Linked DNA regions of Homo sapiens. The protein of the gene in region 7 purifies or fractionates together with the protein of the main gene of each other region. This does not show direct contact. Each region holds a gene or a part of one and is shown on either strand. Other genes may lie near its edges. The genes, in order: ITM2B, LMF1, ST14, LMAN2L, ROR2, RTL9 and UGT1A7.

Evidence for each region.
Region 1: the proteins of UGT1A7 (region 7) and ITM2B purify together in Homo sapiens (affinity purification with mass spectrometry; one large-scale study listed by BioGRID and IntAct). This does not show direct contact.
Region 2: the proteins of UGT1A7 (region 7) and LMF1 purify together in Homo sapiens (affinity purification with mass spectrometry; one large-scale study listed by BioGRID and IntAct). This does not show direct contact.
Region 3: the proteins of UGT1A7 (region 7) and ST14 purify together in Homo sapiens (affinity purification with mass spectrometry; one large-scale study listed by BioGRID and IntAct). This does not show direct contact.
Region 4: the proteins of UGT1A7 (region 7) and LMAN2L purify together in Homo sapiens (affinity purification with mass spectrometry; one large-scale study listed by BioGRID and IntAct). This does not show direct contact.
Region 5: the proteins of UGT1A7 (region 7) and ROR2 purify together in Homo sapiens (affinity purification with mass spectrometry; one large-scale study listed by BioGRID and IntAct). This does not show direct contact.
Region 6: the proteins of UGT1A7 (region 7) and RTL9 purify together in Homo sapiens (affinity purification with mass spectrometry; one large-scale study listed by BioGRID and IntAct). This does not show direct contact.

What each region holds. Positions count from the first base shown.
Region 1 is NC_000013.11:48,249,944-48,254,268, reverse strand, and holds part of ITM2B (integral membrane protein 2B), read right to left. Parts: intron 462-4,325; coding exon 333-461; intron 1-332. UniProt on the Homo sapiens protein: Plays a regulatory role in the processing of the amyloid-beta A4 precursor protein (APP) and acts as an inhibitor of the amyloid-beta peptide aggregation and fibrils deposition. Plays a role in the induction of neurite outgrowth.
Region 2 is NC_000016.10:953,605-957,929, forward strand, and holds part of LMF1 (lipase maturation factor 1), read right to left. Parts: intron 1,063-4,325; coding exon 753-1,062; intron 1-752. UniProt on the Homo sapiens protein: Involved in the maturation of specific proteins in the endoplasmic reticulum. Required for maturation and transport of active lipoprotein lipase (LPL) through the secretory pathway. Each LMF1 molecule chaperones 50 or more molecules of LPL.
Region 3 is NC_000011.10:130,187,075-130,191,399, reverse strand, and holds part of ST14 (suppressor of tumorigenicity 14 protein), read right to left. Parts: intron 3,287-4,325; coding exon 3,127-3,286; intron 2,871-3,126; coding exon 2,743-2,870; intron 2,532-2,742; coding exon 2,461-2,531; intron 1,662-2,460; coding exon 1,504-1,661; intron 1,288-1,503; coding exon 1,252-1,287; intron 947-1,251; coding exon 706-946; intron 1-705. UniProt on the Homo sapiens protein: Exhibits trypsin-like activity as defined by cleavage of synthetic substrates with Arg or Lys as the P1 site. Involved in the terminal differentiation of keratinocytes through prostasin (PRSS8) activation and filaggrin (FLG) processing.
Region 4 is NC_000002.12:96,729,896-96,734,220, forward strand, and holds part of LMAN2L (VIP36-like protein isoform 2 precursor), read right to left. Parts: intron 3,707-4,325; coding exon 3,624-3,706; intron 1-3,623. UniProt on the Homo sapiens protein: May be involved in the regulation of export from the endoplasmic reticulum of a subset of glycoproteins. May function as a regulator of ERGIC-53.
Region 5 is NC_000009.12:91,733,439-91,737,763, forward strand, and holds part of ROR2 (tyrosine-protein kinase transmembrane receptor ROR2 isoform 1 precursor), read right to left. Parts: intron 4,081-4,325; coding exon 3,953-4,080; intron 1-3,952. UniProt on the Homo sapiens protein: Tyrosine-protein kinase receptor which may be involved in the early formation of the chondrocytes. It seems to be required for cartilage and growth plate development. Phosphorylates YWHAB, leading to induction of osteogenesis and bone formation.
Region 6 is NC_000023.11:110,361,442-110,365,766, forward strand, and holds part of RTL9 (retrotransposon Gag-like protein 9), read left to right. Parts: intron 1-4,325.
Region 7 is NC_000002.12:233,768,541-233,771,815, reverse strand, and holds part of UGT1A7 (UDP-glucuronosyltransferase 1A7 precursor), read right to left. Parts: intron 1-3,275.

The DNA.
Region 1 (4,325 bases), on a different chromosome or scaffold from region 7:
ATTTATTCAACTGGCAATTGATAATACTATTCCTCTCAACCCTTAATTATAGTAGGAAAATAAAGGTTAGTAAAATCACCCAATGACCTAAATAAATCCCTTAGTCACCAACATTTCAAGTTACTCTGCTTTTAGTGACTGTGTGTGATGGGCTCAGCAAACATATCATGGAGAGATGTTTAAACACAGCTTTAAAATAGAACTACCACTCTGGCTGAAGGTCACAGATAAAAAGTACAAGCTTAGCGCAAGTTGTAAACAATTTTGTAATGCACATCGGGAGAGGCAAAAAAAAAAAAAAATCAGAGACACAAAATAATTTTTCCACTTACTTGAAGTGCAAAATATTTGTACAAGTATGCTCCTCCTAGAATAACACCTGCAAGCATAAATGCTAGTCCAAAGCACATGCACCAACACCAGGCTCTTCTTTGGCCAACTGGTACCACATCATCTGGGTCCTAAAATATGAAAAAGACAGTTAAATATCTTATCTCCAGACAGAATAACAGAAGGCTCAGGACTAGAAAAACCTTAATGATTATCATTTTAATAAATGAAGACACAAAGACCAAAGGAGTTGTGTCTCTCATCAAAATCAACCCAGGAATGATTAAGTGGTAGCTCCAGGGCTCATCTTAATGGTTCTTGGACTGGGACATTGGTCTCTAGGAGAGTTGTCTACTTCTAATCTCAACACCCTACCTGCTAACCCTGCCTCAAGCAATGATACACTCCATAATTTTTACTTTCCATGCACAACTTTTGGTGATATATTCTATAATTTAATAATTTAGAAGAGGTTATGCTACAACTTAGTCACATAATATGATGATGAGCCTTGTACATTATAAATCCAGGGCATCTCTCTATCTGATCATTTATGAAATTATGTGTTAGGCCTGCTACAGGTGGTTTATATTTCATACCAGGTATAAAACTATTCTAAACCATCCACAAGAAAAAATTACAGGAAAATAAGGAAAAGAACAAACAATGATACTAAAATTATTTAAACAATTAGAATTTCAAAAAATAGGACAAAATTATATACATAGAAATACATAATCCTATTATGCCACTGCTCTACCCTAAACCATGGTCTGATAAAATTCTTCACTTTCTTTTAAAGATAGAAGCAGTAGAAAAAAATGAGAACATATTCAATGATAAAAATTTACTGATAAATTCAAGAAACAAAACTAGCACAGAATTTTATAAAATTTTCATTTCTATCCACTTAAGAAAACAATTTAGCATTAGAACATTATTTGGGGTCATGACATTCATAATTCCTAGATATTCCCTCCCTGTGCCCTTCTAACCTGATCCCTCTAATCTGTCACTTTAGAATTACAGCAAATTTCTGATTTGTACCCAAGTTCATGTGCAAAGAGCTAAGAAAACAAAGATACTTAAATAAGTAGTCACTCAATAAATAGTAAAGACTGCAAAAATTCATAGTATACATGAACAGCCTCTTTGAAGTACATGACTCTGTCCTTTACTTGGAAAACCCACTATGGAGTAGGCTTAAGGCAGAAAGCAGACTTCACCTAAACCTATATAATAGGATATAAAATTAGAAAGAAAAACTATGAATGATGCACAAAAACAGGATCGGTCATTGGAACAGCACTACACAACCTTTTTTGGCACCAGGGACCAGTTTTGTGGAAGACAATTTTTCCACAGACAGACTGAGGGGTGTTGGGATATGGTTTCGGGGTGAAACCGTTCCACCTCAGAAGATCACCAGGCATTAGATTCTCATAAGGAGCGCACAACCTAGATCCCTAACATGCACAGTTCACAATAGGGTTTGCGCTCCTAAGAGAATCTAATGCCCCCGCTGATCTGAGAGGAGGCGGAGCTCAGGCAGCAATGCTCACTGTGCAGCCAAGTTCCTAGCCAAGACCAGTTCCGGTACTGGTCTGTGGCCTGGCGGTTGGGGACCCCGGTATTAGAACATAGATTTGGTTGAAGCAAGAATTCAGTTACGAATGAAACCTAAGATTATATGTTTTTAATTCTAAAATGAGGAACTTTAACATGATACAACTGAAAAAGGTCTAATCCCAGATGTTGAAGCAACCAAGAACAATGTGATACGATACAGTGTGTTCCTAGGTTGAGATTTCAAACATAGAATTTAACACTGAACAACAAACAATGTGTATTCTAAGAATCAGTGCATTGCTATGAGAATGTCATGGTTTCTGTAGCACTTGTCAATATACTATGTGTGAAAGACAATGAGCGTATTGCAAGGAAGAAAAGTATGTAATGAGAATAAGTCTGAAGAATTTAGCAAGCCATGTAAGATATCCCAGCTGTGAAAAGAAAGCTACAAGAATTCCATGGAGTCATAAGGTATTATGAAACTTTAATGACGAAGTATACATCTTTTGCTTGAGCCCTTGTCTGACATAAATATCTAAGGAGGTAAGAAATCATTCCTAACATAATTAATTTTAGAGTGGAAGGAGAGTGGGGGGGATGAAAATGACAGATGGAAATAGTTATTTCCAACATTTGGTATCAGCTGCTGGGACAGCCAAATGTGCGCACACACCCACCCCATTTGGCAGGCTTTCTCTTCCAATAGTACATAAATGAATAGCCAAACAGCACAGGCAGACATCTGTAAAAGAATACGCAGCCCCAACTGGCAAATTGATGACAAGTTTCAAGGCATTGTAATATATCATTTTTAACTGTTCAACAATCATTTTGAGAATAAATTATAAATGTCTACTATGTGCCAAGAGCTGTGCTAGGCACTGGAAATGTATGCTCTGCCAAGAAAGAGACCTGTTAGATCAGTCCGGAAAACAGATAAATATACAAAAAGAAAATAAATATGATACAAACTCTAATAGGAAAATGCACAGAGAGCACATAAGAGGGGATGAGTTTCAGGAAGACTTCCCAAGGGAGAAAATACTTTAGTGGAATGTTAAAGGACAAATACTCATTACCTCAGCAGAAGATAGAGTTAAAGGAAATTTTATATATGGCAATGATTTTTCAAAATTTATGGAGCTAAAATGCATGACATTTCCAAGAGCCACATGTGCTTTGGCTGGAGTGCCCAATATGGTGGAGATGAGTATGAGAAATGATGGACAAGAAGCTGGTGCAGGTCACAAAAGACCTTTGTAAACCATGCTAGAGTTTGACTTCTCATGTTCATTCAAAAATCACTTCTCAGCACTATTGAATATTTTTTTAAAATTCAATTTCTTGAGGAATTTCACTTACAAATACTTCACTTATCCACAGGTCAATTTATTCAGCACCTCAACAACGTGAAACGTGGCTTAAGAATCAGGAAATAAACAAGAGTCTTTGGTCAGCCAAATTATAGACCCCAAACCTATGCACCACCATCATGTACTTCATAGAAGAGCTGTTTAATCTTCAAAGTCTATCTAATCTTTGTTCTCTAAATTCCTAATTATCACTTTTCTTTCATGAGAATAATTCACATAAAGATCTTATCTCTCTCTACTAGGCTATAAGATCTTTTAAGTATCCATTCATATTCATTTTGCATTACTGGTAGCTCCAAGCCAAGCTTAGGCTTGGCATTAGCTGGCACTCATATATTTGATGAGTGAATAAAACTTAGATCTTTTTTTTTTTTTTGAGATGGAGTCTCGCTCTGTTGCCCAGGCTGGAGTGCAGTGGCGCGATCTCAGCTCACTGAAAGCTCCACCTCCTGGGTTCACACCATTCTTCTGCCTCTGTCTCCCGAGTAGCTGAGACTACAGGCGCCCGCCACCACACCCGGCTAATTTTTTGTATTTTTAGTAGAGACAGGGTTTCACCGTGTAGCCAGGATGGTCTCAATCTCCTGACCTCGTGATTCACCCGCCTCGGCCTCCCAAAGTGCTCGGATTACAGGCTTGAGCCACCGTACCCGGCCAACTTAGATCTATTTTTTTAAAAAGCCTGGTTATTTAATTTTTTATGATTCATAAAAGTTATACCAGCAGCCAGCGTGATAATAAGGGAAGGGAGAGATGCAACATAATTCATAACGTAAAACAAACTGTGGCTATTTAGCAAGAGCAGTAGCCTAGTTCAGCATTTATTAAGTAAGGCTTGCTATTTGCAATATACTGTGCTAGATCCTGTGGGAAATCAAATGTGATTAAGACATGGCTCCTACTTTGAGCGATTTATAGTCAAGAATTAACATCACGTATGATAGATAAATGATGTTCCATAATACAATCCGAGTCATGGAGAAGGGATTAAAGTATGCTCAAGATTTAAAAGTTTTTAATCTAAGAGATTTATTAAAAGTGTTTTTAGAG
Region 2 (4,325 bases), on a different chromosome or scaffold from region 7:
CCACACAGACACCCACTCCAAACCAGCCTCCTACACGTCCACACAGACACCCCAAACCAGCCTCCTACATGTCCACACAGACACCCACCCCAAACCAGCCTCCTACATGTCCACACAGACACCCACCCCAAACCAGCCTCCTACATGTCCACACAGACACCCACCCCAAACCAGCCTCCTACATGTCCACACAGACACCCACCCCAAACCAGCCTCCTACATGTCCACACAGACACCCACCCCAAACCAGCCTCCTACACGTCCACACAGACACCCCAAACCAGCCTCCTACACGTCCACACAGACACCCACCCCAAACCAGCTTCCTACACGTCCACACAGACACCCACCCCAAACCAGCCTCCTACATGTCCACACAGACACCCCAAACCAGCCTCCTACACGTCCACACAGACACCCACCCCAAACCAGCCTCCTACACGTCCACACAGACACAGACCCACTGCTTCTGCCTCCCTTTCCCCATCCCTCTGGCTCCAGTAAGCTGGCAACGCAGTCCTTTAAGTAAGGAAGAGCTACTGCAAAGAGGTGGGGTTTTAATCCTGAAGATGGGTGGCTGCTGTGGCTGGTGCACTGGCCGCTCTGCCATGGCCTAAGTAAAATGACAATACCCTCCTGAAGGAATTTAAGATAAACGCTCGTCCAGTCTTTCCAAGTGCCAGGACACCTGCAGTGCCTGTGCTGAGTGACAGCAAGCCCTAAGCTCCGACCGCCCCATTCCTGCTACTCACCAGACATGGCCCACATTAACCAGGGACATGTAGAGGCCCCACAGGGCAGCCATGAGAAGCATGTTGGCGCAGCCCGTGATCAGTACGAAAGACGAGATGCCCAGTCCGAGAAGAGCCAGCAAGTCCAGGTTGGAGTTCATGTCTGACCAGTCCATCAGCCAGAGGATGGTGGGCATGTAGCTGAAGACTTCCCAGCTCGTCCTGTCCTGGAAGTACTGCTGGAAGTTCTTCAGGAACACTCTGCAGGGAAGCAGCCCCCTGTCACCGATGAGCTGCTTGTTCTGATGGAAAGCCACCAGGAATGCCACGACTGGAAGAAAAAGAAGACAAAACAAGCATGACTAGGAACAAACCACATGTGGACACCATGGGCGCAGCTCAGAATGCGGGGCGAGGCAGGCGGGAAGGGGAGGCAGAGTCTGGCTGACGGTTTGGGGCCAAACCCTAGACTCAGGAGTCTGAGTACTTTCTCAAGATTTTGGGGGAAACACTGGAAAAGCCAACCTGCAGCAGACGCGGTGTGTGCATACACGCATACACATCTAAGTGAACTAGACACGTTACATAAAATGCGTGCCCGCAGCAGACGCGGTGTGTGCATCCACACACACACATATCTAAGTGAACCAGACACGTTACATAAAATGCGTGCCTGCAGCAGATGCGGTGTGTGCATACACACACACACATCTAAGTAAACTAGACACGTTACATAAAATGCGTGCCCGCAGCAGACGCGGTGTGTGCACACACACACACACATCTAAGTAAACTAGACAAGTTACATAAAATGCGTGCCTGCAGCAGACGCAGTGTGTGCATACACACACACACATCTAAGTAAACTAGACAAGTTACATAAAAGGCGTGCCTGCAGCAGACGTGGTGTGTGCATACACACACACACATCTAAGTAAACTAGACAAGTTACATAAAAGGCGTGCCTGCAGCAGACGCGGTGTGTGCATACACACACACACATCTAAGTGAACCCGACCCGTTACATAAAATGCGTGCCCGCAGCAGACGCGGTGTGTGCATACACGCACACACATGTAAGTGAACCAGACACGTTACATAAAATGCGTGCCTGCAGCAGACGCGGTGTGTGCATACACACACACACACATCTAAGTAAACTAGACACGTTACATAAAATGCGTGCCCGCAGCAGACGCAGTGTGTGCATACACGCACACACATCTAAGTGAACCAGACACGTTACATAAAATGGGTGCCTGCAGCAGACGCAGTGTGTGCATCCACGCATACGCATAGAAGCAAACTAGATGCTTGTATATAAATTCCGTGTCTGCAGCAGATGCAGTGTGTATACACGCACACACATAGAAGTAAAGTAGACATGTGTATATAAATTGCGTGCCTGGCTACACACAGACAGCCAGCTGACCAACCGGACTGCACTCAGCATTCACCATTATGAAACACACCCTGAGGACCCTGGCTCTGGTCAACGGCATCACTCCCAGCACACGCTGCAGGGCTTGACACTTACTGCCTATAGGTGAGCCACACTTGCCCTCTACGCAGACCACAGGTCTCCGAGTTCACGTCTCACGGCGCCCACCCCACGACGGCTCTCTCACATCCACAGGTCTCCGAGTTCACGTCTCACGGCGCCCACCCCACGACGGCTCTCTCACATCCACAGGTCTCTGAGTTCACGTCTCACGGCGCCCACCGCACGACGGCTCTCTCACATCCACAGGTCTCCGAGTTCATGTCTCACGGCGCCCACCCCACAATGGCACTGTCACATCCACAGGTCTCCGAGTTCATGTCTCACGGCGCCCACCCCACGACGGCTCTCTCACATCCACAGGTCTCCGAGTTCACGTCCCACGGCGCCCACCCCACGACGGCTCTCTCACATCCACAGGTCTCCGAGTTCATGTCCCACGGCGCCCACCCACAACAGCTCTCTCACATCCTCTGGACGTCAGTATTTGTAGAACACTGAATGCTTACCCAGAGATGCTGACAGGTGAGAGAAGCACATTCCCATGTGTAAACGTGAAGAATGAAAAAGCAGTTGAAAGTAAAAAAGATACACCATTCAAATGTGAATCAAAAGAAAGCTGGATCTAATTCATCATGGCTGAAAAAAATTAAAAATAAAAATAAAAAATACAAACAAAAGAAAGTGGAAGTGGCTCTATTAACATCATAAAAAGTAGATTTAAGGGCTGGGCAGGGTGGCTCACGCCTGTAATCCCAGCACTTTGGGAGGCCAAGGCAGGCGGATCACCTGAGATCAGGAGTTTGAGACCAGCCTGGGCAACATGGAAAAACCCTGTCTCTACTAAAAATACAAAAATTAGCTGGGCGTTGTGGCAGGCACCTGTAATCCAAGCTACTCAGGAGGCTGAGGCAGGAGAATGGCTTGAACCTGGGAGGTGGAGGGTGCAGTGAGCCAAGATTGCGCCACTGCACTCCAGCCTGGACGACAAGAGCAAAACTCCATCTCAAAAAAAAAAAAAAAAAGTAGATTTAAGGGTCGGGCACGGTGGCTCACGCCTGTAATTCCAGCACTTTGGGAGGCTGAGGCGGGTGGATCACCTGAGGTCAGGAGTTTGGGACCAGCCTGGCCAATATGGCAAAACCCTGTCTCTACTTAAAAAATACAAAAATTAGTCGGATGTGGTGGTGCACCCCGGTAGTCCCACCTACTTGGGAGGCTGAGGCAGGAGAATCACTTGAACCCGGGAGGCTGCAGTGAGCCGAGATGGCACCATTGCACTCCAGCCTGGGCAACAGAGACTCCATCTCAAAAGGAAAAAAATCAATTTACAAACAAGGAATGACACAGGGATGAAAGAAGATATTGCATAATGATAACAATATCACAAGAGCAACCCCACAAGTACATGCGGCTTCCTACTGCGTGTAGGAATCTGGCTTGGGGTCCATGTCTGTGTAACTGTGCATGCTGGTTTGGAGTGAGTGTCTGTGTAGACATGTAGGAAGCTAGTACATGTACTTTTCCCCATGCATTTATAAATCTAAAAACATATAAACGGAATCTGCACATGGAAAACTACAAAACACTGATTAAAAAAATGAAACAAGATCTAACTATATGAAGAGATAGACCATGTTCATGGATTGGAAAAATCAAAATCATTAAGGTGTCAATTTGATCCATAAATTCGGCACAATCTGAACCAAACACCCAGTCAGTGCTTCCGCCGAGGCTGACAAGCTGATTCTAGAATATACATGGGAGAGCAAAGGGATTAAAAAGCCAAAATCATCTGGAAAAGAACAGAGGTGGAGGACTCATGTTACCCAATTTCAAGACTTACTAAAAAGCTAATCAAGACCACATCAAGACAGCGCAGTATTGATTAAGGAAGAGCCGCAGAACTCAATGGAATGGAAGAGACGGCCCAGACACAGCCCCCCTGCCCCCGACCCGACACACAGAGTGAACAAATTCTGACAAAGGTTCAAAGGCAACTACACAGACAAAGAGCAGCCTTGGGCCGGGCGTGGTGGCTCACACCTGTCATCCCAGCACTTTGGGAGGCTGAGGCAGGAGGATCGCTTGAG
Region 3 (4,325 bases), on a different chromosome or scaffold from region 7:
GCTCTTGCTTACATTTTCCCCTCATTCCTGTTACCCCTTGACCAACCTGGTGTTTCCTCATGTGGCCTGAGGCAGGTTCTTTCTCTGTTGCCCAGGCTGGAGTGCAGTGGTGCAATCACCGCTCACTGCAGCCTCGACCTCCTGGGCTGGAGATCCTCCTGCATCAGCCTCCTGAGTAGGCATGCGCCACCACACCCAGCTAAGCTTTTTATTTTTTATAGAGGCAGAGTCTTGTTGCCCAGGCTAGTCTCAAACTCCTGGCCTCAAGAGATCCTCCCGCCTCAGCCTCCCAAAGCGCTGAGATTACAGGCATGAGCTACCGTGCCCGCCAACAAAATTGTCTTTTCAAGAGCAGTCATCTCCTGATCTGTTGGCCTTCATATCCCTGAATAATAAAGCCTACATTTTACAACCGTGGGCAGTGCCTTCTCTCCGGCGGTTCAGGGCACAGGCCGCACAGGCTGGATTTGGTATCTGGGGACTATAGAGCCTTCCTCTGCTTTGCCAAGGCTGAGAAAAATCACCTCCCAGACTCCCCTGGAGCTGCAGCTGAGGATCACACCACACGTGCCTCCTGCTGCCTGGATGTTTAGCAGTGGCCTGCGGCCAAGAGTCATAAACTGTATCCCAATCGTTGAAGAAGCTGGCCCCCTACAGGGCAGCCGCCAAGCTCCCACAGCCCTACCCGCCCCCCGGGGTACTCACTGCACCAGGGCGTGGGGCTCCATGGGGCTCAGGGTGTTGTACACCGTCACCAGGTCGCTGCCGCGCTCGTCGCAGGACGCAAGGTCAAAGCTGCGGAAGGTGAGGCTCAGCACTGAGTCGGCGTCCCCCCGCAGGGCCCACTGGCAGCGGGCATGAGCGGGGTAGGGGCTGTCAGGGAAGCCGGGCGTGGTGAAGCGCATCAGCTCCACACCGCGGGCGTGCAGGCCAAAGCTGCAGCTGTCTGCGCAGGAGACAAGAAGGAGGGCACGTGTGGGGGCAGGGCTGGGCAGAGCTGGGGGAGGACCCTGAGACCCCGTGGGTGTGGACCTCAGGCCTCGCCCCTTCGAGACGCCCCAGGCTGCCCTGGGCCTCGGGAAATCAGGAAGGGGGCTTCTCAGAAGGGCCTGGAAGAGGAAGGGCCTGGAAAGATCGTCATAATATACTTCATTCAGAGGGACATGCTTCTGGGGACCCCACTGGCTCAAGGGCATCTGGCCACATCCCGCCTCTTCCCCACCCAGAAGAGGAGGCGGGCACGATACTTACTGTCCTGGGTCCTCTGTACTGTTTTGGAGTCCGTGGCTGAAGAATAAGAAGGAGAATAAAGCATTTCCTGATACAATCCATTTCCTTATTCCTGCTTCCTTATTATCTAAAGGGAGGTGCCCGGCCAGCACGTAGTCTTCTCTCTGGGGCACTGGGCCCTGGGAGTGCCGGTCCCCTGCAATGGTCCAGGGCCCAGCCCCACTCCATGGAAGGCTGGCCAGTCCCACGCCCACCCCTGGCCCTCGGACTCACGGAAAGCCACCACTGAGGTGACCACAAAGGACTTCAGGGAGCGCGCCCGCGGGGGCAGCATGACTACGCGCTCCTCGGCCATGACGCGCTCGGCCTCCTCCACCAGGTGCTGCGGGATGCTGAACTCAGACCAGTAGTAGGCGATGACGCTGCCCTCGCTGGGGAGAGAGCGGGAGCCTGAGGCGGAGCTCTGGGCCCCATTTCCCCCACGTGCGCCCAGAGCGACTCCAGGACACATGGGCGGCTCGGGGCACACCTGGGCCTGCCATCTGCAGAGGCCCTTCCCCAGCTCCTCTTGTGTCATCCCTCTTTCCACCCCAAAGCAAGAGGCCTTGCCCTTTGCCCTCTGCTCTCACAGTCTCATCCCCAACCAGACCGATTCTGGGGGCTGCTCAGGGGTAGGAATGAGGAGGGGAAACCCATTGGAGTTTGGCCACAAGCGAGGACACACCGAGTGTCACCTTCCTGAGCCTGTTTTCTGACCTGAGAAAGGAACTGGGAATGCCACCTGCCACACAGCATTCCCCAGGGTTCAAACGAACTAGCAAAATAAAAAGCACTTTGAGAATAAAGTCTATTTTTTTACAAAAGTATGCGTGAAAAACTGCTCAAGCACAGAAAATGTGGGGGCTCATTGAAGGCTGCCTGAGTACCCCAACTCCCCCATACCCAAATTTGGAAAAACAACAAAGAATCACAGCCGTTCCTGGCATCATGCCAAGCACGTCACAGGCCTTTGGGCAGCTCATCACAGCAACAGCTACAGGCACCTTTGCCATGGGGGCAGAAGAGTCAGGCTGCCAAGTAACGCACAGGAGGACACAGCGAGGACCCTCCTTGGCTCTCCAGGCCAGGACCTCCAGCACCATCTCCCGCTTCCTGCCCCACACACTGTACCCCGATCCTACTCCCAGCCAGTCTGGGGTGCATCCCACTGAGCCTTCTCTCCACACCCACCTGAAGGCCGTCACAGCCGACTCCTTGTGGTAGGGGCCCAGGAATGGGACTCCGCTGTACAGCAGCTTCAGCTGAGGAAGGGCAGAGACTCAAGGTGAGCCCCATGCGGCGATGACCCTGCCCCAAGCCCGGGCTGCTCCCTCCCCTCCAGGGCCCGGGTCCCCTTTGCAGATCACCCCCATCCCAGGGCCCTGGGAGCACAGGCGAGGCATGTCCCTCCTGCCCAGCAGGTGGGACACCAGCGCACACAGCCCAGCAGGACTCTGGGCAGGCTGCACTCACCGCGTCCTTCACCTTGCTGGCCAGGCTTACAAACTCAGTGGAGTTGGAGTTCTCGTAGGCATCCACAAAATTCTCATTTGTGATCCTCATGTAGCCATTGAAGACCTTCTGGACACGCACGTCCCGGTCTGTGTGAGACCAGAAGGCGCTCAGTCAGGGGAGGTGGTACCACCCCCGCCTGTCCCTCGCCGTCCACAATGGGGAATGAATGCCAGGAGGGGGCCATGGGTCAGCCCTGACTGCTTCCCATCACTCCCCATCAGGGTTCCAGAGAGGCCAAGAGATCCTCGTGTACTCAGTAGGTGGCCCTGGGTCTGTCCGCTGAGGGAAGAGGGACAGCCACCCCTTGTCGTCCTCCCCGGAGCCAGCCCCAGCTTTACTCACACTGCAAATGCCACACCAGGAAGCCGATCCCCAGCAAGACCAAGAGGAGGCCGATCAGCACGGCTGCCAGCACCACCCAGCGCCCCGGGCCATGCTTTTCCACCTTCTTGACGTTGTTGACTGGCAGGAACTCCACGCCTTCCTCCAAGCCATTCACTTTCTGCAGGGAGAGAGGCGCCACCACTCAGACCCTCTCACCCGCTCTTCCCCTGCACCCCGCTGGGGAAGATGTTCACATTTTGTGAGGTCCAGCTTGGAGAAGAAAGCAGGGGCTTGGGTGAGAAGAAGGGGGCTTCCCCCAGAGGCATGGGGACCACTGCCCAGAGCGCAGACCCCGGGACATGAACCCTGGGCATGCTCTGGGAGGAACATGAGGTCGGCCTTCCCAACCACGCATCTCAGGGTCTGGACAGCACCAGGCGATCATTGCTTACGAATTGTTCATTTAAATTAAAACGCAATGAAGGGCTGTCGAACCCGGTCATCCAGGTCTCCCCTTCAGTGAATCACCTTTGACGTAGGTGGGTGCCCCGGAGAGTGGCCCCAGCCCAGGCCCATGACTGGCAACTGGTACCCCTGTGCAGACTTCTAGGAGCAGGCCCTGCTCCCTCGGACACAGCCCCTACCAGATTCAATCCCCCCATCACCTGGCCCAGGAGCCTGTGGCCAGCACTCAACTGCACACCCTACCCAGCGGCCTTGCCCTGCCAATGGTGAACCAGCCAAAAGTAAAAAGGTGGTGCTGTCATGGAAAAAACTGCTCTGTGTTTAACCTTGGGAGCCCCAGTCCAGGACCTCAAGGCACAGTGAGAGGCCCACTGTGGGAATCCACACCCACGCGCAGCCCCAACAGAGGGAAAAGCAAGCAAACCAAACGCCCAAAAGACAGGATGGCAACTTCCCCGGGTTCCTCCCTGCCAAGGGTATCCATGATGAGGGGCCAGAATACGGAGGGGCAGGTGGGGTGTCTGCTGCACCCAGTGACGGACCGGCGAAGGCTTCTGCCGATAGCACATGCCGTCTGCCCGCCCTGAATCCTGGGGATGCACCATGGCCTGGCACTGTGGCACTCTCAGTTTAACTACCTCACGCCCACTCAATACGGCTCACAACAAAAGCAACAGCCCATCCCACACCCACAGGTGTTGGCCCTTTTGACAGTTTCCTGATGTCATTCTTCTGGTGGTGATCTCGTAATT
Region 4 (4,325 bases), about 140 Mb from region 7:
AAAAGAGGAAGGCTGCCTAGACTGCACTTCAGACGAACTGAATCAGAAGCTCTGGGGTTGGGACTGGATGTCAATATTTTTAAAAGTTCTCCAGGGAATTACAATGTGCACTTGGAAGTAAGAACCACAATAGCTAGCCAGAAAAGATGTCTCAATTTTTACCATCTAAAATAAATTTTTTTTAATTAACATCTACAAAATCCTTACAAAATAAACCCAAGTCAGAATTTCTACTTTCTCAAACCAGAATTACTACTATCTCATGGTGAAATGGAAGCTAACAGAGTTTGAACAATTTGTTTCTGGAAGAAACAGAGAGACAAGTTTAAAACTCTTGTCAGGCCCTAAAGCTGATAACTCTTATTCAGATCCATTTCTAACTACCACTATTTCCTCAGCATGACTACAAATCCAGTCATGATCCTCTCTTCAATAAAATCCTTTAATGTACCTACCCCTTCAGAATCAAGTCCAGACTCCTCAACAGGAACACAATCCTTCAGAACTTGGCCCCAAGTGGTATATGGTGAGCATGAGTCACATACATTCAGTCTGCTCTGGCTCTCATCTAAACAGTTCAGCCACCAACCACCCAAGCAGATGCCAGTCAGTCTCAGCGGCTAGTTAACATGCCGAGGCTACAGTGTTAATATTGTAGAATGCAAGGTGAACAGCAGCCCTAGGAACTGTGCAACATAACAAGACTACTGGCCCTGCTTTTCATTCTAGCCTCATCTGTCTCTGATTCTACTTTATTTCCACACACTCATTATCCCCTCTCTCTCTCTTTTTTTTGAGATGGAGTTTCACTCTGTCGCCCAGGCTGGAGTGCAGTGGCGTGATCTCAGCTCACACTGCAACCTCCACCTTCCAGGTTCAAGCGATTCTCCTGCCTCAGCCTCCTGAGTAGCTGGGACTACAGAAGCATGCCACCACACCTGACTAATTTTTGTATTTTTAGTAGAGACGGGGTTTCGCCATGTTGGCCAGGATAGTCTCGGTCTCCTGACCTCGTGATCCACCCGCCTTGGCCTCCCAAAGTGCTGGGATTACAGGCATGAGCCACTGCACCCAGCCTCATCATCCCCTCTCTTAACCTTAGGACCTCGGCTTTTTTCCCTCTGCATGGGACACGGGTTCCTTACTCTGCAGACCTCAACCTAAAAGGCACTTCCTGGAAGAAGCCTTCCCCACTACCACCAACACTACTGCCCCACTTCAGGTTAGAAGCTCCTGCTGTGTCCTCCCATAGTGCCCCAGAGTTCCCCCATCAGCATTCTCAGTGCTACTGAGTACAAGGACCATGTTATCTTGCTCACTAATTCCCAGGGCCTGGCACCTAGAAAGTGGTTAATGTATGTGGAATGAAGAACAGCCCAGAAGGAACACAGAGAAGCAGCTGTAACTGATCCACAACAAAAGGTTATTCTCCTAACTCAGGTCTCACATTCCACCACCTTTAAAGTGAGCTCGCTGGGCACAGTGGCTCATACCTGTAACCCCACCACTTTGGGAGGCCAGGGTGGAGGAATCACCTGAGGTCAGGAGATGGAGACCATCCTGGCCAACATGGTGAAACCTTGTCTCTAAAAATACAAAAATTAGCTGGGCGTGGTGGCGTGTGCCTATAATCCCAGCTACTCAGGAGGCTGAGGCAGGAGAATGGCTTGAACCCAGGAGGTGTATGTAGGTTGCAGTGAGCCGAGATTGCACCACTGCACTCCAGCCTGGAGACGAGCGAGACTCCATCTCAAAAAATAAAAAAAATAAAAAATAAAAAGTGAGTTCTGTGGGAAATGTTAACAGCTGTTGAATCTAAGCATCACAGATACAATGATCATTCTCTATTCTTCTAATTTTTTTTGTTTATTTTGGTGACAGTCTTGCTCTGTTGCCCAGGCTGGAGTGCAGTGGTGTGATCTCAGCTCACTGCAACCTCCGCCTCCTGGGTTCAAGCCATTCTCCTGACTCAGCAACCTGAGTAGCTGGGATTACAGGCTGCAGTGCAATGGCGTGGTCTCAGCTCACTGCAACCTCCACCTCCCAGGTTCAAGTGACTCTCCCACCTCAGCCTCCCAAGTAGCTGGGACTACAGGTTAACACTAATACTAATAAAAATACTAATTTTTGTATTTTTAGTGGAGACAGGGTTTCATAATGTTGGCCAGGCTGGTCTCAAACTGCTAACCTCAAGTAATCTGCCCACCTCGGCCTCCCAAAGTGCTGGGATTACAGGCGTGAGCCACCATGCCTGGCCTTCTAATGTTTTTTAAGTTTGAAAATTTTCATAATAAACCTTTGAGGAAAAAAATAATGTGACCTTTGCCTCTATTTCTAATCCTGATTTCCTCGCTAGGTACTTAGCTACAGGATACCCAGCAACAACCTGTCATAATTTCCCACCATCTGATGGCAGTGCCGTAGGACATAGAGAGAGTACAAACCCACTGTCAATATAAGAAAGCAATAGCCGGGCATGGTGACTCACGCCTGTAATCCCAGCACTTTGGGAGGCCGAGACAGGCGGATCACGAGGTCAGGGGTTCGAGACCATCCTGACCAACATGGTGAAACCCCGTCTCTACTAAAAATACAAAAGTTAGCTGGGTGTGGTGGCATGCGCCTGTAGTCCCAGCTACGCGGGAGGCTGAGGCAGAAGAATAGCTTGAACCTGGGAGGCAGAGGTTGCAGTGAGCCGAGATCGCGCCACTGCACTCCAGCCTGGGCGACAGAGTGAGACTCTGTCTCAAAAAAAAAAAATTAAAAAAAAAAAAGAAAGCACTAAAAAACTCTTAGGTCAGGTAACAAAAAGGCCTGCCAACAGCCAGATACTAGGTTCCAACAAAATGCTGGGCTTTCATCAGTTTCCTTCTCGTTATAGCCTTTTCTTTCTTTCTTTTTTTTTTTTTTGAGACAAGAGTCTCACTCTGCTGCCCAGGGGGGAGTGCAATGGTGTGATTCTCTTGCCTCAGCCTCCCGAGTAGGTGGGATTACAGGCACCCACCACCACACCCATCTAATTTTTATATATTTAGTAGAGACGGGGTTTCACCATGTTGGCAAAGCTGGTCTCGAACTCCTGACCTCAGGTGATCTGCCCACCTCGGCCTCCCAAAGTGCTGGGCTTACAGGTGTTAGCCACCACACCTGGCCAATTATAGCCTTTTCTATAGGCGAGGAGAACTGTTCTTCAGGTCTGAGAAGAAGAAGAAGAAAAAGAAGCTGAAAAGTGTGTGCAAGTTGCAGAAGAGAGCACAGCACTGATGGATTAAAAGTCAGGGGAGGCTGAGTTACGTAAATTCAGCTTGCTCTGGTGCTGGTCTAGCAGCCAAATCACCAATCAACCAAACATGCTCAATTTTAGTGGCTATCTAATAGGCACAAGAGAGAACATGATTATCACTAAAGAAAAAGCCCCTGTTCAAGACAGCTATTCCCAAAAGACTGTGCACTCCTAAATAGTCCCTTTAGAAAAAAACACTGACAAGGACATTAACTTTCAAAGTTCAACAGATGAAGAACCCCTCACTTTCTATCTCCTTTGTTCCCTCCTGTACAACATTCCTGAGGCAAAGAACTGTGATGTCAGTGTAGCTGACCTAGGCTCTGACACTTGCCATTACCTCTTGCTGCTTCTCCTCATTGGGGTAGGTGTCTACAAATACTCCCAGCCCCACAAATTTGTCCATGTTTCCAAACACAGGCCCTAGAGAGAGAGAACAGATGATGAACAATGAAATAAAGCTAAGAGTTGATAAAGGAATAATATATCACTATGATGGAGGAAAAAGTAAAATTCAAATGACTCCCAAGCCTCTCTCAAGATGAGAAAACACATGTTTAAAAGTACCCAGCAAAGTGCATGGCCTGTAACAAGTGCCCAGTAAATATCTGTAATTGTTTGTTGTTGGAGGCAAGGGAAAGAGAGAAGGCCACTGCAACCTTATTTAGCACTCAGGCAGCTTCCTGATCCAAACTGGTTGCTAAGGTGCCCCTACAGAATTCTGCTTTACAAACAATTGGTAAAGACTATGCCCCCAAGAGAGAACTGAATTCCCTAGTTCTCCTTCTTGTTGCAAAAGAGATCAGGTCAAATCAGGTTGAGCCTGCCATCTACATGGAGCAATAATAGCTCTAACACAAGGAAAATAGATAACTCTTCTCTTGACTCAGCAGTGCTGAGATCATTCACTGTAAATGTTCAGAAGAAATCAGCTCACCCAATCGTCAGCGTTCAGGAGAGCCAGTGCTTTCATCCAGCCAACAGGCCAGGTAGTTTCACAAGGAAACTCAGAAAGAAGTAACAAGCAAGCAACTGCCTCAGG
Region 5 (4,325 bases), on a different chromosome or scaffold from region 7:
GCAGAGCCCGCGAGACTCGCGTTAGCGGGGGACCCACCTTGCGCCCTTGACATTCATCCAGTCCCCACCCCCAGCCTGGCATCCCAGACTGCCCACTCAGCCCCCTGATGCCCCGCCCCGCCCCAGACTCCCCAACCCCGAGCCCCGCACACCACCCTGGAGAGGCTCCCCACCAGCAGGCCAGCCTGCCCATCACCTGCTCTGATTTGCAGCAGTCACAGAAAAGTCCCTGGTCCCAGGGCCTCACTTAGAAACATCAGAAGCAGAACAAGAAAGAAGGAAAACTCGGCCCCCTAGCTCACTCCGCTAGGTGCTTCTTCCAGGACAAGAGGGTTCAGACTTCAGATGCAAAAGCAGATCCTAAGGACCCGCCATGTGTGGAGAGCGCAGGCCAAGAAGTGCAGTACCGAGCCCCAGGCTTCCCAATGTCCCAGATCTGTCTGGGGAGAAGGCTGTCCCGGAAGAGGGAGTCAGCTCAGCTCTGTGAACTGCAGCTGGAGGAGACAGTTGGTAAAATGCGGAAAGCCAAGAGGGTGAGAGCAGCAAAGTGGGAGGAGAGCCGCGTTACAACTCTGGAAGGTTCTGTGATAAGGGGGAGCAGAAAAACCCGAAGATCCAGAGCCCCCTTTGGTAGGGCGGTTTGTTTTTTAAGGGCAAGATGTCAGAGGATGCAGTTTGGTGGTTAGAAGATGGGGTGAGTTCGGGAACAAAGTGGGGGTGTTGGGGAGAGATCTGCTGCACCTGGGGTGCATGGCTGGACACTGGTAAGGGTGAAGAAGCTGGCCAAGGCAGGGCTCTAAGGAATGCATCAGCCTGCCCTGGGCTCACTACCCCATTTTCACCTGTGAAAGGCTGGCTTACAACAATTGAGCTTGGGGACAGTGGAGGCAGACAGGCCCCTTTGCCTGCACACCCAGCAGAGGCTGTGTCCTCCAGCGTGGCAGAAAACCCAGAAGCTGGCATTTAGTCCCTGAGGAGCCCTAACTCCACCCACGAATGCAGTTCAATCCCATCATTACAGATTTGGCGATTATTTGGTGATTATACAGAGGGCTGTCAAGAATGCTGGCCTTGACCTCCAGGCAAGGAAAGCGTGTAAGTGCTGTGCCAGGTTTGGCCAGCAGGTGGCAGTGCCGCTGTCAGTCATTCCCTGGGAACCCACCCAGGAACGGGATGGGCAGCTGTGTGGGAACAGCCTTGTGCGTGATCACTTTGTGGTATCACTCATGCCTTTCCGGGCCTGTTTCTGTACCTGAAGAGTGATTTGAGACCCCACACTGGGGAATGAGAGTGCACACAGAGCCTATAAAGTGGCCCTCAGCGTGAATGGGCCCAGGGGTCTGGTAAAAGGCGGCGTCAGTGGGCGGGAGCAGCCACGCTGTCCTGATTGTGTGCAGGCACTACTGTGCTCATCACATCACCTCCCCTCCTCTGGGTTCCTGTGGCCGATATTTAAATGGAGGAACAGAGAGGGCAAGCAGTTACAGTACAGGATGTCTTGGATTTGGAGGAAGAACTGAGGCTTCAACCCTGTTCAATCCCATCATTACAGATTTGGGATTATATGGATGGCTGTCAAAAATGTAGGTAGGCCTTGACCTCCAGGCAGGGAAAGATTGTCTAAGAATGCCAAAGCTGTCACTTCTCTTGGGCTAATCCACTGATAGGATGTCTCTGCTGATCTTTATAGGATTTCTCTTTCTCCTTCTCCTCACCCTGAGAATGTACTGCTTATTTCTGAAAGTGCAATTCTAGGCACAAAGAGATCCAACAACTCACATCCTGTTATCTGTCCACACCCTGAATGTCACACAACACTTTCCAACACAACACTGCACACAACGCAGTCATTACTATGCTTATTTCAAAACCACAAGTCTGTTGAGAGCAACTTCAAATTTACTGTTTTCAAAAAGCCACCCACCTAGAAAATCTTCATTCTAAACTCTTCTCTAAAAGATGCTATAAAACCAGGCTGCTTGGATGCAAGCTGATTCCTTAAACAACTCCTGAAGAGATAACTGAGGGACAATCTTGTGCCCTGGATCAGTGCTTGCCAATTAGTAGGGTGTCTAATTAATTCTGAGAGTCTGCAGCTAGCATTTTAAAAGATGGTAAGAACAGACTAGAGGATGTCAGAATGCACGGTTCCTACTAAGGGCTCTAACTTTTTTTTTTTTTTTTTTTTTTTTTTTTTTTTTTTTTGAGACAGAGTCTTGCTCTGTCTCTGGGGCTGGAGTGCAGTGGCGCGATCTGCAACTTCCACCTCTCGGGTTTAAGTGATTCTTCTGCCTCAGCCTCCCAAGTAGCTGGGATTACAGGCACCCGCCACCATGCCCAGCTAATTTTTTGTGTTTTTAGTAGAGATGGGGTTTCACCATGTTGGTCAGGCTGGTCTTGAACTCCTGACCTCGTGATTTGCCCGCCTCAGCCTCCGAAAGTGCTAGGATTACAGGCGTGAGCCACCGTGCCCGGCCACTTTTTTATTTAATGAAATAAAACTGAAAAGAAAAATCCAAGTGCACCGCTTTTACGAAGGGTGAAAGTTATTCCCTGTAACCTATGTCAGTTGTGTGAAATACATGTATGTGTACACTAAGTCATGGCGTAAAGTATATTCTCTATTTTCCACTGTGTGTTTCGGTAAAAACCTTTGAGAAGTCCTACTTTAATGGCAAAGAAAGCTTTTGCAGTGAGAGGTAGCCATATTTTCAAAACCATCTCCCGCTGGAACAGGATGGCATCTCCAGGTTCCTCTCTGTCTCATGATGGCTCTTTCAGTTTGCACAGGACCCCCTGGCCCTGTCCTCAGAGGTCTCTGTACCAGCACATGGGCCAGGCAGTCTCTTCTGTGACCGTGAATGTGATGTTCGACTCTCTAGTCCGAGGGTGACCTGAACTTAGAAGGGCTTGTCAGTGACATGAGGTGACTTTCTGCCTTGGATCCTCATTGTCACCCCTTAACAGGTCAGTGCCCTGTATCCCCTTTGCCCCACCACACTCTCCCAGGAGCGCAGGCATCAGAGATCACCCACTGACTCTAATCTGCAGCAGAGCCTCCCGCTCCCATGGAGAGGATCCAACTAAACTGAGGTGCTGGGGCACCGGCCATCTGCACAGGATGTGTCTTGCTCCTTATGGGATCTGGAGAGAAAATGTGTATGTGTTTGTGGAGAGAGTAGAGACAGCAGGAGGAGGGCTCTGTAGGACTATTGTCTAATTAATTTTCTTCCTTTCCAAGGCCTTTCCCCTAAGAAGGACCCCGGACCCCATCAATGTGTTCGAGTTGTATGCTGGGAACTGGGACAGCCAATCAGAGAAGTTAAGTCCTAATGAGACCAAGGATGAGCAGCTGCAGTTCCTAATTGACTTGCCACTTTCTCAGACCCTGAACCAGGTACCCAAAGACGTGGCTTTGTTCTCTGGAAACCCAGGACTGACAAAGTGTGTGTTCACTGCAGCATCCCTACCACTGATGACCCGCGACTCTTTCCCCAAAACAGCTGCAATCAGGCCTGGGTGCCTTTGGACCAAACGTGGCTCAGAGAGGATAGAAGAGTCAGGAAGTACAGAATGAGAAGTCAAGCAGAGTGAGTGTGGGGGCGCTGAGGCTATCTGCGCCAGTGTGGCAGGCCCGGGGCAGGAGGCCCTGGCGTTGCAGTGAGGACAGTGCTTTGGACCCACACGGTTTGGCTGAGTTAAAAGTGCAGAAGTATATTCCAAGCAACCCACACTTGCTAATTTAAACATACAGGCCAGGAACATTTTTAGGGCAAATCATGTTAGCAATTGCCACTACTTCTAAAAAAGATCTCTGGTTTCTACCACAAATGAAATGGAAGAGGCACCCACTGACCATGCCATTAACTGATGAAACACAGTGGCCACCATCTGTGCGACAGATGGCTGTGTGCATGCTTATCATCCTGGGAGAAAGGTCTGCAGCTCCTACCTGTGATTCGGTTTTCAATCTCCCCCTGCATCTGAAGCGAGTCCACATAAATGGTCCGGTTGCCAATGAAGCGTGCACAGGCAATTCCCCGGTAAGGCTGGCAGAACCCATCCTCGTGGTAATCATCCCTGGTAAGAAACACACAAAGTCTGTTAGAGCTCTGGGAGGTGCCAGGTCCCGCCAATGACTTCTTTTATGATCCAGCATCTTGCGATCCAGCAATTTTGTTACTTGGTATTTATATAAGTAAATTTAAATAAGTAGAACACATAAGTCACACAAAAACCTGTATGTAAATGTTTATGGCAGCTTTATTCATAATTGTCAAAACTTGGAAGCAATAAGATGTCTTTCTGTAGGTGAATGGATAAAC
Region 6 (4,325 bases), on a different chromosome or scaffold from region 7:
TTTTTTGGAACCAGGATAATTTTATTATGTGAATGTCAGATCATGTCACTCCTCTGCTCAAAACTCCTCCAATGGCTTCCCATCTGACACTCAGTAACAACAAAACCCCTTATAATGGCCCATAATGCTGTATGCAACCCAGATATTGACATACTCCTGTCCTTCAGGTGATGGATCAAATATCCCACTTGGTAAAATCTTCTCTGATTACCATATTTAGTATTGCAAGCGCCTTCTCGCCATTCTCTATCTGCCTTCCATGTTTTATTTCTTTATACTTTGAATACTAGCAGATGTTATATGTTTATCTATTTATTTGTTTATCATCTATCTCCTTCTGCTAGAACAGGAGCTGGAAAACTTTTTCTGTAAAGGTCCAGATAATAAATATTTTAGGCTTTGTGAGCCACGTAATCTTTAACACAACTACCTACCTCTATCATTGTTATACAAAAGCTGCCATAGATGAGCATGGCTGTGTTCCAATAAAACTGTATTTACCAAAACAGGGAGCGGGCTAGATTTAGCTAATGGGCCATAGTGTACTGACCCCTGCTAGAATGTAAATTCCAGGAGGGCAAGGACTTTTGTTTACTGCTGTATCTCCAACATCTAGAATAGTACCTGGCATATAGTAGGCACATGATTTATTTTACTGAATGAATGCATCAGTGGGAGATTGGAAAGCTGTGGAATAAAAAATATATATATATAACAGAGCCATTGATGGTGCAGAATCCTGAACAAAATCTAGCTTTGGATGGGTTTGCAGCATATCAACTCTCCTTCCTTCTTTTTCCCCTCATCCCTACACTAAAACTTAAGCTTGTTATATAAAGTAAAAGTTGCTTTCATTGCCTGTGCAATTCTCCCAATGTGTGAAATTTCATCTGACTTCCTTTAATGTTGTCATTTGTCTATTTAACCCTCCTGACTCAGACTCCCTCTAATAACAATAATAACTCAAATACTCTGTACTAAAACCAGAACGCTGAAATCAGTATTTTTAATTAATTTGAAACAACTGCTAGCAATAGCTTCTATTGACAACTCTACGCTTTTCAACACTTAATCATATTCTGAAGTACTCCCAGAAGCTGGGCGACTGTTACTCTTATGATATGAGATGATATTTTCCTTCCATGCATTCAATGTGAATGGTTTGTTCTGAAAAACTTCAGCTTTCATGTACTCCTAATGGTAAGAATCACATGGTAGGAAATATGATAAATGAAGTATTTACCAGTTCTTACTGACTGTTCTTTCATACTTCCTTGGATCTCTTACAGGCACTAAAGATATCCTGTAGTTATATGACTTCCTATTGAAAATGCACTTTCACTCATTCATTATTTTATATAGTCTTCCACACATTGCTAACATTTACCAAACATTCACTACGTATGTGGTATTGTGCTGGGGGATTTATATATATTAATTCATTTAATTCTTATAAAACACCTAAGTGATATATACTATCATAATTTTATAGATGAAGGAACTGAAGTACTAAAAGCTGAAGTAATTTGCTCAAGGCCCCACAACCAGCAGAAAAGGAAGCTAGCATTTCAACTCAGGTCTGCCCAACTCCAGAGCCAAGATTTATCTATTGTTTTTTGTCACCTCAACAAATATTTACCATATGCCATGCAGCACACTAGGCAGTACCTACAAAGATGAATAGGGCATGATCTCCTTGGCCTTCCAGAGGTAACACTAGTTGGGGCTATATGGGTGGGAATGGAGTGTCAGATGCAGAAGCTAAGGAATTTTCTCTTTACAAACAGGTGGGTGAGAAAGTAGACACAGCACTGTGAATTTGTGGAGTTTTGAAAAATGGACAGAGGGCTACAGACTGAGAGGGAATAGGGCCACCAACTCTAGAATTAAGGTCAACTGATAGGGTAGAAACATGCCATTCTCAGGGGCTTAAGCTGACAAAAGAAATTGCCCACTGTAGAAATGAGATTGGCTGCCCACAGAAAAGTATTTACTGATAGATAAGGGACCTCCCTATGTGTCATTAAGGAGTAATGCTCTAAAATGTAATCAGTGGAAAACACAACTGTAGCCTTGGAAATGCTATGGCTGGGAAAGTCCATATAACTAAGACGGGGTTCATGATATTGTGACATGTACAAACAAGTTATTTGACCATTATAGAGAGAAAAATAAAAATAATTAGAAAGAGAAGTTGCTTTTATTACTCTGTGCCCTGGCCTACTGACACATTTATTGACTTTCTGATAGGGTGATGCATGGATGCATCAGACTGAATAAACTACATGACTCCATCTCTTCAGATCATCCCACACCATATACTATCTCTTCACTCACCAGTAATAACAGTCACCATATAACAAGTGCCTACAGAGTCAAACACTTTACATAAATTATCTTATTTAATCCTCAAGGCAACTCTATGATATCATAGAATTCTATTATTAGTTCCATTTTCAAATGACGGAACTGAGGCTCAGAGAGGTTATGTGACTTAAGCCCATAAAACGGAATGAGTGGTATATTAGTTTTCTGTGACTACCATAACAAATTGCCACAAACTTGGTGGCTTAAAACAGCAGATATTTATACTTTCACAGTTCTGGAGGCCAGAAGTTCAAAATCAAGGTGTTGGCAGGGCCATGCTCCCTACAAAGGCTCTAGGGGAGATTCTGTTCCTTGCCTCTTCCTAGCGGTTCCAGGTGTTGCTTGGCTTGTGGTAGCATCATTCCAATCCCTGCCTCTGTCTTCAGATGGGCTTCTCCCTTGTCTCTGTGCCCTGTCACTTATAAGGACACTTATCATTGGATTTACAGCCCACCCTAATCCAGGATGATCTCATGTAGACATCCTTATCTTACATACATCAGCAAAGAGTCATATTCTAAATAAGTTCACATTTTGCAGTTCCAGTTGGATGTAACTTTTGGGGGCGGTGACACAATTCAACCCACTATGTATAGCCTAGCTGGGACCCTAGCCTATCTGACTCCAAAACTCTGGCTCTTTCCACTAACTAAAGCAGGCTGCTCCCACCAAACAAACAGCCTTTTGTCTTTATTTGGTTTCCTAAGTAGATTTCCTACTGGGATTTATCAAGATGAATTAATAAATTGACATTTTGGCTTCCAAATTATTGCCTTATAAGTTTAGGTTGTGTGAAATTTGTCCCCTAGAGCCTGATCAATCCCTGGCTAAAATGGAAAAAATTGAGTTTTGGAACCTGTGAAGCTGATGAATGGATCCTGAATAGGACCAAGGTCCATTTAGAGTATAAGCATCCCACAGCCTGCCAGCCATACTAATTTCTTTACTATATATGTGACCATAATATAATGGGATAGCATAATATTCTAAGTCTACCGAAGAATGTCTAATCATCTAAGAGCTTACAGGGGGAATTTTTGTGTACCTTAATATTATATCCAGAAATATTCCCTGTAGTGCCAACTATATTTGTTCCTGAGCCTCAGCTCCCTGCATCAGGTCACAAGGAAGATGTCTCTAGGAGTTCATTATCACATTAAGACAAGGATTCTGTAGGAAAATGGGAATCTAGAAACAGTAGGGACTTCCTGTACCTCTACATCAGTGTCTTTGCAGGGGAATTGCCCTAGCTGACCAGTTGACACTGGCCTGCTCACACCTTAATTATGAATAGAATATTCCCAGGGATGTCTTTCTCAGATTGTGGTCAGTTTGTGGGCCGCCTATTGTGGTGGTCCACTGAGTGACACCTGGGGAGCTAGTTAAAAATGTCAGTTTCCTGGTCCTTTATAGCAGACTTACTGAGTTAGTATATCTGAAGATAGGGTCAGGAGCCTGCATTTTAAAACAAGATTCTGGAATAATTCTGATACATATTCAAGTTTGAGAACCATTGCCTTCTGGTGAAATCAGGCTTCCATGACGTTGAAATACAGAATAAACTCCAAATGTTCATTTACAATTCCAGCCAATAATCACTTACCTTATTGCATTCTTGTAGCGTGATCTATATGCTTTAGTTCATGTGACAATATCATTTCATATGGCTTAATTTAAATGAAAGCAAAGGCAGTTATGGCAAGATTTCTTAATCCTGCTCTCCTGAGACAATTTACATAATAACTTTTGGGGAGAATGCAATAATCTCTCTCTAATATCTTAAACTGATCTCTAAGGTTCCTTTTGGCTCCAACATTCTGATTCTATCAGTGTTCCTAGGGCTTCAAATCTGTCTGTGCAAAACACATTGCTTGTTACAGACTAAACCTATTTTCCTTCTTCCAGGCAACAAGTTTCTGAAGAAAACTGGTTGCTCATGATCTTTCTGGGTGTTTTCT
Region 7 (3,275 bases):
GAAAGGAGGAAGGGAGGGAGGGAGGGAGGGAGAGAGGAAAGGAGAGAGGGACGGAGGAAGGAAGGGAGAAAAAGAAAGACCAAAATTATATTTTAGAAATATTTTAACCTTGCTTCCTACTCTTCTTCTTTTCTTTTTAGTGATATTTTGTGAGAAATTTCATTATATTTTCATACAGTAAAATAAAGAAAGGAAAATGTCACGTCAGAAATTATGAATAGTCTCCTATTTGAAGTTGTAAACAACCACCTCTGGCCAAATTAACAGCCATTTGTAAGTGCCAAATCCAAGGTGATGATATATTTGTAATTCAGTCATTGAAACATTAAACTATCTGGGTGCTAGATTTAGCATGAGGCAGGGTCTGTGCAGCCACTTAGTGCAAAATGGATTTCTGTTTATTCTGGACAGTGTTCATTGCCCAATCAGAACATCTCAATCCAAAACGGGTTAGGTGCTTCAACCCTTGGTGCTACAGGAATGAAGAGGAGATTGAAGAGGAGAGGGAAAAGGAGGAGGAAGTAGAAAAGAAAAGGGAGAAGAAAGAAAAAAAAAGGCACTCCTATTCAGGACTAATTATGATCGCTGTTGACTGATACAGTTTGGATATTTGTCCACACTCAGATCTCATGTTGAATTGTAATCCCCAGTGCTGGAGATGGGGCCTGGTGGGAGGTGTTTGGATCATGGGGTCGGATCCCTTGTGCTTTAGTGCTGTCTTCCTGATAGTGAGTTTTCATGAGTTATTGTGAGAGCCGGTCATTAAAAAGTGTGTGGCACCTTCCCCCCCAACTCTCTCTCGCTCCTGCTTTTGCCATGTGACATGCAAGCTCCCGCATTGCCTTCTGCCATGAGTAAAAGCTCCCTGAGGTTCCCCCGGCAGCCAAGTGATGTCAGCACTAAGCTTCCTGTACAGCCTGCAGAAACACGAGCCAATGAAACCTCTTTTCTTTATAAATTACCCAGTCTTGGGTATTTCTTTACAGCAATGCAAGAACAGCCTAATACACTGTCTTTAAACATATCTATAATGTTATTTGGAAACATTATTATAATGTAATATTAGTACTTGGCCATGAATCATGTTAAATATCATCTTCCTTTTACATAAACCTTAAGATGAATTTTCTTGGAACCTTCTTTTTTTTTTTTTTAAGTAAGACGGAGTCTCACTCTGTCGCCCAGGCTGGAGTGGAGTGGCACAATCTCAGCTCACTGCAACCTCCGCCTCTCAGGTTCAAGTGATTTTCCTGCCTCAGCCTCCCAAATAGCTGGGATTACAGGCATACACCACCATGCCTGGGTAATTTTTTTATATTTTTTTGGTAGAGATAAGGTTTCTTCATGTTGGTCAGGTTGGTTTCGAACTCCTAACCTCAAGTGATCCACCTGCCTCGGCCTCCCAAAGTGTTGGGACTACAGGCATGAGCCACCGTACCTGGCCAGAACTTTCATTCATTCATTCAATAGTAATTGAGCACCTATTATGGCCTGGTTGTCAGCATAAACTGATGTTTGAAAATTTTCCACTTCTTTTTATTTTGTGTAGGCACTATCCCCAGCTCAGAGTGTTGGAATCATGGAGATTCACAATCAGACAGGGATGGCTCAAAAATGAATAGATGAAAGTTAGTTAATAAGTTGAGCTCATTGATTTGTGTTTTTTTAAAAAATAATGTATTAGAGGACTTTCACCAAGTTGTTCTTAGGTTACAAGTAGTTATCTATACCACTGAAGAAAGAATCAAAATTATATCCATAATGTGAGCCTCAAGAAGGAGCTTCAACAGTGCAGGGAAAGAAGTCAGGTTTTAATGGTATTGATATGTGAGCAGGACATCCTGACATTGAGGTGGCCAGAAGAAGCCGCTGGAAGGAAGGAATGGGACCACACCACCCAACGCTCTGGGCACATGATGCTCAGGTTATGTGGACTTTTCATTTTTTTTTTTTTTTTTGAGACAGGGTCTCACTCTGTTGCCCAGGTTGCTGGAGTGCAGTGGCATGATCACGGCTCATAGCAGCCTCCAACTTCTGGGCTCAAGCAATCCTCCCGCCTTAGCCTCCAGAGTGGCTGGGACTACAGGCGTGTGCCATGGTGCCTAGCCAACATTGATCTTTTATCCAGTGCCACCACACACACATTAGCACCTCAAAGGTGGGAAGTCAGTCATCAGTCCTCCCCTGTTGTCCCTTGCTCAAGCTGGTGTGTCCCCGTGTTCCGTCTCCTCTCATCTGAACATGCTCCAGCTCTTCACATCTGTCTTCCTGACTGCTGCTTCTTTCTAAAGGAGGTAACCATGGGAGAAAGCAATGGACACTCTCATAAACACACGCACACACACACACACGCATATGAATGCACACGTGTGCACCCACACATGAGCACAGCCACATGCACAAACGCACACGCACATATGCACACAGTATCTATTGTCGGATGAAATCTACCACTGGCCACCACTTCTTCCCATAAGGTTCTAATAAGCCTATTACCAGTGAGCTTGACAGTAATATACTAACTTTAATCCAGAAATCATTTGCCCTTTGAATCGTTTTCAGGGCCACATTTGAGCAAATTTTCCTTTGCTCTTATTCTAAGACTTTGTCTGTGATATCTTATAGCTCCTTCATTCATAAACTCCATGGACAAAATTTCTCACAGGTTCCAGTGCTGCAAAAAGCTGTACTTCTAAGCATTTGAGTTGTTTTTCTCTTAAAGATACTATGCTTCTTATAATGGAGTATTTCTTTCTGTGCAGGAAACTTATGGATCAGATGTCTATTATGGCAACTTTTTATGTAAATTGGAGTTTTAAATCTAATGGGGGAAATAAAATTCTAAATAAATTATATGATAAATTATATAGAAACTAAAGAATCCTTTTATAAAGTGAATAATAACCTCTAAATTATCTTATTTATAAATCCAGGTCAGACGCGCTGGCTCATGCCTGTAATCTCAGCACTTTGGCAGGCCGAGGCAGGTGGATCACCTGAAGTCAGGAGTTCAAGACCAGCCTGACAAACATGGTGAAACCCTTTCTCTACTAAAAAATACAAAAATTAACCGGGCGTGGTGGTGGACACCTGTAATCCCAGCTACACGGAGGCTGAGGCAGAACTGCTTGAACGTGGGAGGTGGAGGTTGCAGTAAGCCAAGATTGCACCACTGCACTCCAGCCTAGGTGACAGAGCAAGACTCCATCTCAAAAAAAAAAAAAAAAAAAAAAGAAGAAATAAAAATCCAGATTTTTATGTATTTGTTTTTATAT